Linked DNA regions of Homo sapiens. The protein of the gene in region 1 interacts with the protein of each later gene in a biochemical or structural test. Each region holds a gene or a part of one and is shown in the gene's direction. Other genes may lie near its edges.

The links.
Region 2: the proteins of TOP2A (region 1) and GINS1 form a complex in vitro, tested with the Homo sapiens proteins (one study listed by BioGRID).
Region 3: of the proteins of TOP2A (region 1) and PRKCG, one has a biochemical effect on the other in vitro, tested with the Homo sapiens proteins (one study listed by BioGRID).

What each region holds. Positions count from the first base shown.
Region 1 is NC_000017.11:40,400,812-40,404,463, reverse strand, and holds part of TOP2A (DNA topoisomerase 2-alpha), read left to right. Parts: coding exon 1-87; intron 88-190; coding exon 191-312; intron 313-1,409; coding exon 1,410-1,558; intron 1,559-3,382; coding exon 3,383-3,614; intron 3,615-3,652. UniProt on the Homo sapiens protein: Key decatenating enzyme that alters DNA topology by binding to two double-stranded DNA molecules, generating a double-stranded break in one of the strands, passing the intact strand through the broken strand, and religating the broken strand.
Region 2 is NC_000020.11:25,410,583-25,414,234, forward strand, and holds part of GINS1 (DNA replication complex GINS protein PSF1), read left to right. Parts: intron 1-534; exon of another isoform or gene 535-704; intron 705-3,207; coding exon 3,208-3,272; intron 3,273-3,652. UniProt on the Homo sapiens protein: Required for correct functioning of the GINS complex, a complex that plays an essential role in the initiation of DNA replication, and progression of DNA replication forks.
Region 3 is NC_000019.10:53,902,583-53,906,234, forward strand, and holds part of PRKCG (protein kinase C gamma type), read left to right. Parts: intron 1-490; coding exon 491-571; intron 572-2,052; coding exon 2,053-2,160; intron 2,161-3,652. UniProt on the Homo sapiens protein: Calcium-activated, phospholipid- and diacylglycerol (DAG)-dependent serine/threonine-protein kinase that plays diverse roles in neuronal cells and eye tissues, such as regulation of the neuronal receptors GRIA4/GLUR4 and GRIN1/NMDAR1, modulation of receptors and neuronal functions related to sensitivity to opiates, pain and alcohol, mediation of synaptic function and cell survival after ischemia, and inhibition of gap junction activity after oxidative stress.

The sequences.
Region 1 (3,652 bases):
ATCTGACATATAATGACTTCATCAACAAGGAACTTATCTTGTTCTCAAATTCTGATAACGAGAGATCTATCCCTTCTATGGTGGATGGTGAGTTCCAATTTGTTAGTCTGTTTTCATTGTAAGATGGAAATCAAATTCCAAAATTGGTTAAATTGAGGATACTTACGTTTGCTCTTATTTCATTTTAAAGGTTTGAAACCAGGTCAGAGAAAGGTTTTGTTTACTTGCTTCAAACGGAATGACAAGCGAGAAGTAAAGGTTGCCCAATTAGCTGGATCAGTGGCTGAAATGTCTTCTTATCATCATGGTGAGGTAAACACACAATCCATGTTTCCAGAAAGCATTATATCAGAAATCCCTGCAGAGTCATTCTCAAAACAGATTTGGTGAAAGTATAAGCTCATATATTCATAGTAAAGAACAAGTTGGTAAAACCTGTGAAAGAATAAAACTGCTTGCCCTTTGATTTCTGAAAGTAATATTCCTGCAGGGATATTCATAAGTCTGCAAAGGTCTACATTAAAAAATGCTTAGTATGTTTATTATAACTTTGTGATGTCAAAATTTAGACCTCCACTGATTTGAAAATTGTTATAATAAATTGTGACACATGTATGCATGGAATCAGTGCTGTAACTTCAGTAAAACTGTGTGCACTGACACTGAGGAATATCCAGGGTCTATTCTCAGGTGAGGAAAAAAAGAGACAGAACAATAACTAAAAATGTCTACAAGGATATGTTCCAAATTGTTCACTTTAGTTACCCCTGAGAACTGGAAAGGGCAACTTTCACTTTTTATATGTGTCTGAATTGTTTGACTTTACACCAATGTTTTGTGATTACTTTTTGCATTAATTATGTAAAACAGTTTTAAAGAACTAGATTGCCTACAGGTTTCTAGAATTTTAAATATAATGGTTGTCTTGTTGCTTTCAATCAAAATATAGTAGGGATACAATAAATTTTCACCCAACGAACATTTGTTGAATGCCTACCATGTACCAGGTATACAAAAATAAATAAAAATATGTTCCTTATCCCCAAGATATAATAACAATTTAGCCAGAGGGCCAATACACACACAGCTATAGAATAAAGTGATACATGCTAGAATAGAAATGAACACAGCATTGTAACACAAAGGAGGAAATATTTCATTTTGCTGAGGATAAGGAGAAGAACTATGCCTTCAAAGTTGAGTGGGATTTAATAGAAATTGTTGGACGGCAGCCCTAAACTTGGAGCCAGAAGTTGTAGGTTCAAGTACTATTTCTGCCATCTATTAATCTGAGGAAAGTCACTAAACAACTAGACCTCACAAAATGTTACAGGATTATAGTGAGGTTAAGTCATAATGTATTTGTATTAGTAAAAGCCTCAGCTTAATGAATCTTTTTTTCCCCACAGATGTCACTAATGATGACCATTATCAATTTGGCTCAGAATTTTGTGGGTAGCAATAATCTAAACCTCTTGCAGCCCATTGGTCAGTTTGGTACCAGGCTACATGGTGGCAAGGATTCTGCTAGTCCACGATACATCTTTACAATGCTCAGGTAGGTATGCTTTCACTTTCTAGTGACTTGCCATTTCCAGTTTTGAAACAATGTGAGATTTAGTTCACCAAAAATACAAAAACTCAGTTAATCAGAAGATACTGGCATCTAGTGGCAGAGGCCAGGGGTGAGGCTTATACAGGAAAGCCCCCCCATAACAATTATCCAGTGCAACATGTCAATTATGCTAAGGTTGAGAAATCCTGATGTAGAGCTTGGGACTGAGTAAAGGAGACTTTGATTCTTCCTAAATATCACAATTGAAATTTTACTCCTTTACAAGCCTATGGAAAGTATATTATGAATGGTCAATTTTCAGCTGTCATCCCAGTCACCCTTTCAGTGGCATTCAAACAGTTACTAATTGCTCCATCCTTCTTGAAACTCTTTATTTGGCCTCTATGACTGTAGACTCTTCTGGTTCTCTTCTACCTTATTAGCTTTCTCTGCTGGGTCCTTCTCACCTTCCCAACCTCTAAATACTGGCCCATTCCAGGGCTCCTTCATCAGATCTCTTTCCAATGCCTACACTCAATTCCCAAATGATCTCCCATTCATCCGTTCTATACCTTTAAATCTCCAGTCTTGGTCTCTCCCCTGAACTCCCAACTTTTATGTCTGACTGCCCTCTTAACATTTCCCACTTGGATATCTAGTTAAGTATCTCAAACATAAGTCTAAAACCAAATCCTTAGTTTTCCTGTCTCAGTAAATGGAATGCCATGCCATCCTTCTAATTGCTCAGGCTAAAAACCTTGTCACCCTTGACTCCTTTGCTTGATACTTAACATCCAGTTCCTCAGCCAATCCTATAGGATCTGCATTGGAAAAATACTAAGCCACCCCCATCTCATCTAAACTATTGTAACATATCATCTTTTCTTAAAGCAGCCAATTATTTTTTAAAAAATAAGTCACTCTGATTCAGAACCTTCAACTGCTCAGAGTAAAATCTAAAGACCTATTTTAGCTAACCAGACATTATGTGATCCGTGTCCCCACCTTCCATGTCTTTTGATTCCTTCTCATACCATCTCCTCTCCAGCCACACTGTCCTTGGCCTATACTCAAATATACCGAGCACATTTCCTCTTCAGGGCCTTTTACTTACTGGTTCCTTTGCCTGCAACACTCTTTCTCTAGATATCCACATGGTTCAGTCCCTCAGTTTGTTTTTTGTTGTTTTTTTTTCTTTTGAGATGGAGTTTTGCTCTTTTTGCCCAGGCTGGAGTGCAGTGGCGCAATTTCGGCTCATTGCAACCTCTGCCTCCTGGGTTCAAGTGATTCTCCTGCCTCAGCCTCCCGTGTTGCTGGGATTACAGGTACACGCCACCATGCTCAGCTAATTTTATATTTTTAGTAGAGATGAGGTTTCACCATGTTGGCCAGGTTGGTCTTGAACTCCTGACCTCAGGTGATCTGCCTCCCTCAGCCTCCCAAAGTGCTGGGATTACAGGCGCGAGTTACTGCACCTGGCGCCCTCAGTGTCTTTTCTCTGCTCAAATGTTTTCCTATCAGAAACGGCTTAACTTTCCTTAGCACCTCTTCAGTCACTTTCCCACTTTTTCTTCTCTTGTTTATCCCACCACCTAACAAAATATGTGTTAATTGCAAACTTCTACTGGACTGTGAGCTCCTTGAGGATTGAGACTTTATGTCCATGTGCGTGACACATAGCAAGTGCTCAATAAATATTGTTAAATGTATATTAGTCAGCAAGTAAAACCAAGATAATTTTCATGTATAATACATGTCCTTTCCATAAAAGTTAAGTGTGAAATTCAGTATTTTTGTAAAATAACATTCTTTGTTTCTTTTCTTTAGCTCTTTGGCTCGATTGTTATTTCCACCAAAAGATGATCACACGTTGAAGTTTTTATATGATGACAACCAGCGTGTTGAGCCTGAATGGTACATTCCTATTATTCCCATGGTGCTGATAAATGGTGCTGAAGGAATCGGTACTGGGTGGTCCTGCAAAATCCCCAACTTTGATGTGCGTGAAATTGTAAATAACATCAGGCGTTTGATGGATGGAGAAGAACCTTTGCCAATGGTAAGTATTCTGTGTGTGTTAAGAGCCTTAACTTTTCC
Region 2 (3,652 bases), on another chromosome or scaffold:
TGGGAGTTTCGCTCCTGTGGCCCAGGCTGGAGTGCAATGGTGTGATCTCGGCTCACTGCAACCTCCGCCTTCTGGGTTAAGCAATTCTCCTGCCTCAGCTTCCCTAGTAGCTGGGATTACAGGCGCCTGCCACCATGCCCAGATAATTTTATGTATTTTTAGTAGAGATGGGGTTTCACTATTTTGGCCGGGCTGGTCTCGAACTCCTGACCTCAGGCGATCCACCCACCTCAGCCTCCCAAAGTGCTGGGATTATAGGCGTGAGCCACCGTGCCCGGCCCAACACACAGGCTTTTCTTCTGGAATCACTCATGGTTAAGCGCTGTGTTCAGCAAACAGAAAAGTGATTACACCCTTTCTATATGCAGAATTGATACTTTTTTTAAAAAGTACATTTTTAAGAAAGTTAGGCCAAGCATGGTGGCTCATGCCTGTAATCCCAGCCACCACTTTGGGAGGTCAAGGTGGAAGGAACACTTGAGCCCAGGAGTTCGAGACTAGCCTGGGCAACATAGTGAGACCCCATTTTTACAAAAAATAGAATTAGCTGGGTGTGGTGGCACACACCTGTAGTCCCAGCAACTTAGGAGGCTGAAGTGAGAGGATTGCATGGCTCCAGGAAGTTGAAACTGCAGTGAACTGTGGTCACGCTATTACACTCCAGCCTGGGTGACAGACTGAATCCCTGTCTCAAAAAGGAAAAGGTAAGAAAATTACCTTGGGCTCAGGTAGAAGTCATGCTTGCATTTTCCATCAGGAATTACATCTTTTGAGCAGAGTTGAGTAGTTGATTTTGGAATTGTGCCATTTGTATATGCCACAGCATTTTTGCCAACACATATATTTTGGCCCTAAAAATAGACAGTGAAAAAGAGATGGGATTGCTTCTCTTTCGATTGTTGGCAGACCTATTGGGTAACATTTAATCATTTTGGGCTGGACACGGTGGCTCCTGCCTGTACTCGCAGCACTTTGGGAGACCATGGCAGGCGGATCACTTGAGGTCAGGAGTTTGAGAGCAGTGTGGCCAACATGGCGAAACCCTGTCTCTACCAAAAAAAAAAAGATTACAAAAATTAGCCAGACTTGGTGGCTTACACCTGTAATCCTAGCACTTTGGGAGGCTGAGGTGGGTGGATTGCCTGAGGTCAGGAGTTCGAGACCAACCTGGTGAACATGGTGAAACCCTGTCTCTACTAAAAATACAAAAATTAGCTGGACGTGATGGGCACCTGTAATCCCAGCTACTTGAGAGGCTAAGGCAGGAGAATCATTGCTTGGACCCGGGAGACGGAGGTTGCAGTGAGCCAAGATTGCACCATTGTACTCCAGCCTGGGTGACAAGAACAAAACTCCGTCTCAAAAAAAAAAAAAATTAGCTGGGCATTGCTGGTGCACACCTGTAGTCCCAGCTACTCGAGAGGCTGAGGCAAGAGAATCACTTAAACCTGGGAGGCAGAGGTTGCAGTGAGCTGAGATCGCACTACTGCACTCCAACCTGGGCCACAGAGTGAGACTTCATCTCAACAACAACGAAAAAAATCAGAATTCTAATGTTTTATTTTTCCAAGGGAAAATTTGCCCGAAACTGGATACTAGAAAAACTCCTATGGCCGGTTTTTGCAGTGCAAACCAAAAACACTATTCCTTTTTCTTTCTTTTGGTATTAACCTTTTAAGATCACTTTTAAGCTGGGCCCAGTGGCTCATCCCTGTAATCCCAGCACTTTGGGAGGCTGAGGCGGGTGGATCACCCGAGGTCAGGAGTTCAAGACCAGCCTGGCCAATATAGTGAAACCCCGTCTCTACTAAAAATACAAAAAATTAGCCAGGCGTGGTGGTGGGCGCCTGTAATCCCAGCTACTCGGGAGGCTGAGACAGGAGAATTGCTTGAACCCAGGAGGCAGAGGTTGCAGTGAGCCGAGATTGCACCATTGCACTCCAGCCCAGGCGACAGTGTGAGACTCCATCTAAAAAAAAAGACCATTTTTTAGTAAATTATGAATTATTTACATATTTTTCTTTATACCTCATGCTTCAGTAGGACGATTGATATCTTTGTTCGTCAATTTTATTGATGTATAATTTACATACAACATGTGTATTTTAATAGATTTTTGAATTTTGACTAATATGTACATCTTTATAACCAGCACCCTGATCAAGATTTCTGTAATTATCAAAATATCTCATATAACCCATAAATATACATACCTACTGTGTACCCACAAAAATAAAAAAATTAAAAAAGATTTCTGTAACTTTGCCCCCCTTTTGTAGCTACCTCCCACCTATAGCCTTAGGCAACCATGAATTTGCTTTCTCTGACTACAGATGATATTATTCTTTTTGGCAAACTTTTCCTGTGAAGGGCCAGAGGGAATCATTTCATGTAAACTCTTGTGTCAGGCATCTCTTGCTCAGTATAACGTATTTCAGATTATCCTCATTGTTGTGTATGTTGTCAGTAGTTCATTTTTTTTTTTTTTTTCTTTGAGACGAAGTTTCGCTCTTGTTGCTCAGGCTGGAGTGCAATGGCATGATCTTGGCTCATTGCAACCCGGGTTCAAGCGATTTCCCCTGCCTCAGCCTCCTGAATAGCTGGGATTACAGCCTGTCACCACGCCTGGCTAATTTTTGTATATTTAGGAGAGACGGGGTTTCACCATGTTGACCAGGCTGGTTTTGAACTTCTGACCTCAGGTGATCCACCCGCCTCAGCCTTCCAAAGCGCTGGGATTACAGGCATGAGCCACCACCCTTGACCCATTCTTTTTATTATATTAGATTTTTCAGATAAGTGGAAGGTTTATCCATCTATCATTTGATGGACGTTTGGGTTGTTTCTACATTTTTATTGTTATGAATAATGCTGCAAAAAACATGTGTTTTCTGTTTTCTTGAGTATATATATACACCTAGGAGTAAAATTACTGAGTCATATGGTAATTCTGTGTGTAGCTTTTGAGGAACTGTCAAGTTTTTGCCCACAGGGCTATACCGTTTTACATTCCCACCAGCAATGTACGAGGGTTCCAGTTTCTCCGCATCTCACCAACACTTGTTATAACCATGCTAGTGGGGTGTGAAAGGACTATTGCTTTTTGCTAAAGTATATAAATGAAAGATACAGTTCAGTATTGATAGCATATTGCCACAGAATTGGTGGGGAAATCAGTGGATTTCAATATCGGTTTATATGTTCTAGGAGGATGGACTCAGACAAGTTCTGGAGGAGATGAAAGCTTTGTATGAACAAAACCAGTCTGATGTGTAAGTTTCATAAGATGATATTCTAAAACAATTCAATAATTAAGATGTTGAAATTGGCCGGGCGCGGTGGCTCACGCCTGTAATCCCAGCACTTTGGGAGGCTGAGGCGGGCGGATTACGAGGTCAGGAGTTTGAGATCAGCTTGGCCAACATGGTGAAACCTTGTCTCTACTAAAAATACAAAAATTAACCGGGTGTGGTAGTGGGTGCCTGTAATCCCAGCTACTCAGGAGGCTGAGGCAGGAGAACTGTTTGTACCCGGGAGGTGGAGGTTGCAGTGAGCTGAGATTGCACCACTTCACTCCAGCCTGGCGATAGGGCAAGACTCTGTCTCCAAAAAAAAAAAAAAAAAAAAAAAGATGTTGAAATCAGATAACCTT
Region 3 (3,652 bases), on another chromosome or scaffold:
TAGATCGCTGGCCAAAATATTCAGAGTGGAGGCTGGGCGTGGTGGCTCACTCCTATAATCCCAGCACTTTGGGAGGCGGAGGCAGGCCAATTGCTTGAGTCCGGGAGTTTGAGACCAGCCTGGGCAACATAGTGAGGACCTATCTTCACTAAAAGTGCAAAAATTAGCCAGGTGTGGTGGTGCACACCTGTAGCCCACCTACTTGGGAGGCTGAGGTAGAAGAATTACCTGAGCCTGGGAAGTTGAGGCTGAGTGAGCCGTGATCACACTACTGTGCTCCAGCCTGGGCAACAGAGTGAGACCCTGTCAAAAAAAAAAAAAAAAAAAAAAAAAACGAAACAAAAAATCACCTGATGAAATAAATATTCAGAGTGGGAAGAGCTTGTGCTGAAAGCACTTAACGTGGGTAGCGCTCCCAGGGGGTGAGGCCAGAGGGGTCCTAGGCTTCCTAAAGAACGCATCATGATTCCCTGCCTTCCACCTCCCCTAGATCATTGCCTACCAGCCCTATGGGAAGTCTGTCGATTGGTGGTCCTTTGGAGTTCTGCTGTATGAGATGTTGGCAGGACAGGTAAGGGAAGGTGGGGAGAAGCTGGCTTGGCTAAAAGAGACAGAGAGGGGCACCTGGATCTCAGGAGGAGCCAGTTAGAAAGGAGCCCAGAAGGTTGTGCTCGAATAGCGCTGTCCATGGTTCTGAAGTGTTGTCTTAATGTAGACCAGGTGTTTTGTTTTGTTTTGTTTTGTTTGTTCTGTTACCATGGATTCTTTCTCCCTAGATGGTAAAGTAGCAGTCTGGTTAAGCCTATGGATCCCTTCTCAGAAGAATGTTTTTCAATGCACAAAATAGAATAATACATACGCAGAAAACCAAGGTTCAAATCCTCACTTTGCCACTTACTGGCTGTGTCAGCTTAGACAATTACATACATTCTAAATCAGCTTGATTGGATTCCTGGACTGCTGAGTGTACTACAACTAAAAAAATTGGTTACCACACTCTTGATCATCTTCTTAGCTGGCTATGGTAGTGGGCACCTATAGTCCCAGCTACTGGGGAGGCTGAGGCAGGAGGGTCACATGAGCCCAAGAACTCAAGGTTACACTGAACTATGAGTATGCCACTGTGTTCCAGCACAGGCGACAGAGCAAGACCCCATCTCAAAAGAACAAACAAACAAAAGAAATCAATCATTTTGAAAGATAGTCACCAAAACTTTTAAAATTTAATTGAATCTAACAACCAACTAAATTCAATGTATACAGTTGTCTAAATATTTAAAATTGGAAAATGGACATATGTGCAATTTCTTATTAATTCATTAAGTAGTAAGTTCTAATGGTAGTAAAGTAAAAAGGAGCTCTAACAGTAATTTTGATGTAGCAATGACTAATAATTTGGAATATCTGCAACTCTCATGTGATGAGAAAATACCTGTGATTACTATTGATAATGAAGCCACAAGCACTGCTGCTGCCTGCATTCATAACTGAAGGGAATGCTAAATTTTAGTTAGAAGTTAAAAAAAAATTTGGCCGGACATGGTGGCTCACGCCTGTAATCCAAGCACTTTGGGAGGCCGAAGTGGGCAGATCACTTGAGGTCAGGAGTTTGAGACCAGCCTGGCCAATATGATGAAACCCCATCTCTAAATCTTTGCCTTGGTATCATTTTTTGTAACCTCAGAAGACTGTGAACTACTCATCCAACCAGGAGAATGCTTTTAGGGTGTTTCCTGCAGTTTTTCCTCTCTTCTATTTAACTGACATGTTGCATAATTAACAGCCTGCTGATTTACATAGCAGATAAAGAGAGGCAGAATAGTACAGAGATGCACAGATCTGAGGCATCCGAGATAGGAAATGAGAGAACCTGAGAAGGAGAGAGATCAAGCTTTGGTGGTTTGGTCTGATCTCTCCTGAGGGTGTGGTCAGGTGTGCATGTGGGGCGTGTGATGGGTCAGGCATGTTCCCGGTGGGGTGAGGAGGGTGTGGAAGGTTTGGGGAAAGGCAGTTGGGCATGTCCCTGACTCTCTATCCCCTCCACTTTGATAGCCTCCCTTCGATGGGGAGGACGAGGAGGAGCTGTTTCAGGCCATCATGGAACAAACTGTCACCTACCCCAAGTCGCTTTCCCGGGAAGCCGTGGCCATCTGCAAGGGGGTGAGAGCCCCCTGACTCCCAGCTTCTCCAGGCTCACAACCACACACCCCATTGCTGTCTCTGTGCCTATTAGAAAAATGCTCCCATTCCTGAAGTCACTTTACTTCCATCTGTTGGAAAAGTTGATATGATGCATAGGTTTTGTTAGAACAATGATTTCCAGCCCTGTTGCCACGAGGCCTGGAGATGGCCTCTGTCTCATCCTTCTCTGTGACTCCCACTCCCCAGCTCCCTGCTTGCAGGAAGTGCTGAAAGTCCAGGGTGTCTGTCTGTCTAGAACTGGGTGGGTCAGGTAAACCCAACTTCTGCAGCTTTTCTTCCTGTGTGAACTTGGGTGAGTCACCAAAACTTTGTGAGCTTAACTCTCTTCAGGGGTTATGGAGTTGACACAGAAGAAAGCACCTGGCCCATAGCAGATTTTCAGCCCATGTCAGCACCTTCTGCGTCTAGCTGCTCTCTCTGCATCTCCCTGACAGTCTCTCTGGTTTCTGTCTCATGCCTCCCCTCCATCTGCATACGATGGGGCTCTCTGTGTTTCTTCCTTTTCTCTGTGTCTCCTTCTGCATCTCTGTCTACACTTTTGGGCCTTTGTCCAACCCCCCTACCCCCCATCTCTGTCCCCTCCTGTGTCCACTCTCATACACACACGCTACATCTCACCCTCCTCTCCTGCTGGCTTTCTGTCCTCCCTTTTCTCTGGGTCTCTGTCCCCATATTTGGTCTTTATTCCTCCCTCTGGGTGTGTGTTTCCTGGGTCTCTATCCTTCTCTCTTTCTGAATCTCTGTCCCCCTGGGTCTCCTCTGTCTCCTCCCTTCTCTGAGTTTCTGCCTTCTTACCTGGGGTCTCTGTACCACCCTCTGAATTTCTATTTCCCCTTTTCTCTGGGTCTGCAACCTCTCTTCCCCCATTCCCTCCCTCTTCCCCTTCATCTCCTCTACCCTTCCCTCCCTCCCCCTACCGACCTCCCTCTGTCCTTCACTCTCCCCTTCCCTCCCTCCCCCTACCCTTCCCTCTCCCCGTCCCTCTCTCCCCTTCCCTCTCTCCCCCTACCCCTTTTCCCTCTCCTCTTCTCCATCTCCCTCATGATTTGTTCTGTTTCTCTGTGTGTCCCTGGGTCTCTGGGTATGAATTTCATCTGCTATCATTTTCATGTATCCTCTCCTTCTTCCTGTCTCTCTCTCTCTCTCTCTCACTCACTCTCACCCTCTGTCTCTCTCTCTCTCTGTCCCTCTTCCTCTCTCTCTCCTCTCTGTCTCTCTCTGTCTCGCTCTCTGTCTGTCTCCCTCCTCCTCCTCCTCCCTCCTCCTCCTCCTCCTCCTCCTCCTCCTCCTCCTCCTCCTCCTTCTTCTTCTTCTTCTTCTTCTTCTTCTTCTTCTTTTCTTCTCTCTCTCTCTCCTTTCTTTTCCCTTCCTCCCTCCATTTGCCTGTTTCCCCTGGCTGTTCTTATCTCTCCGGATCTCATGCCTGTGTCTCTTGGTTCCTCCATCTGCC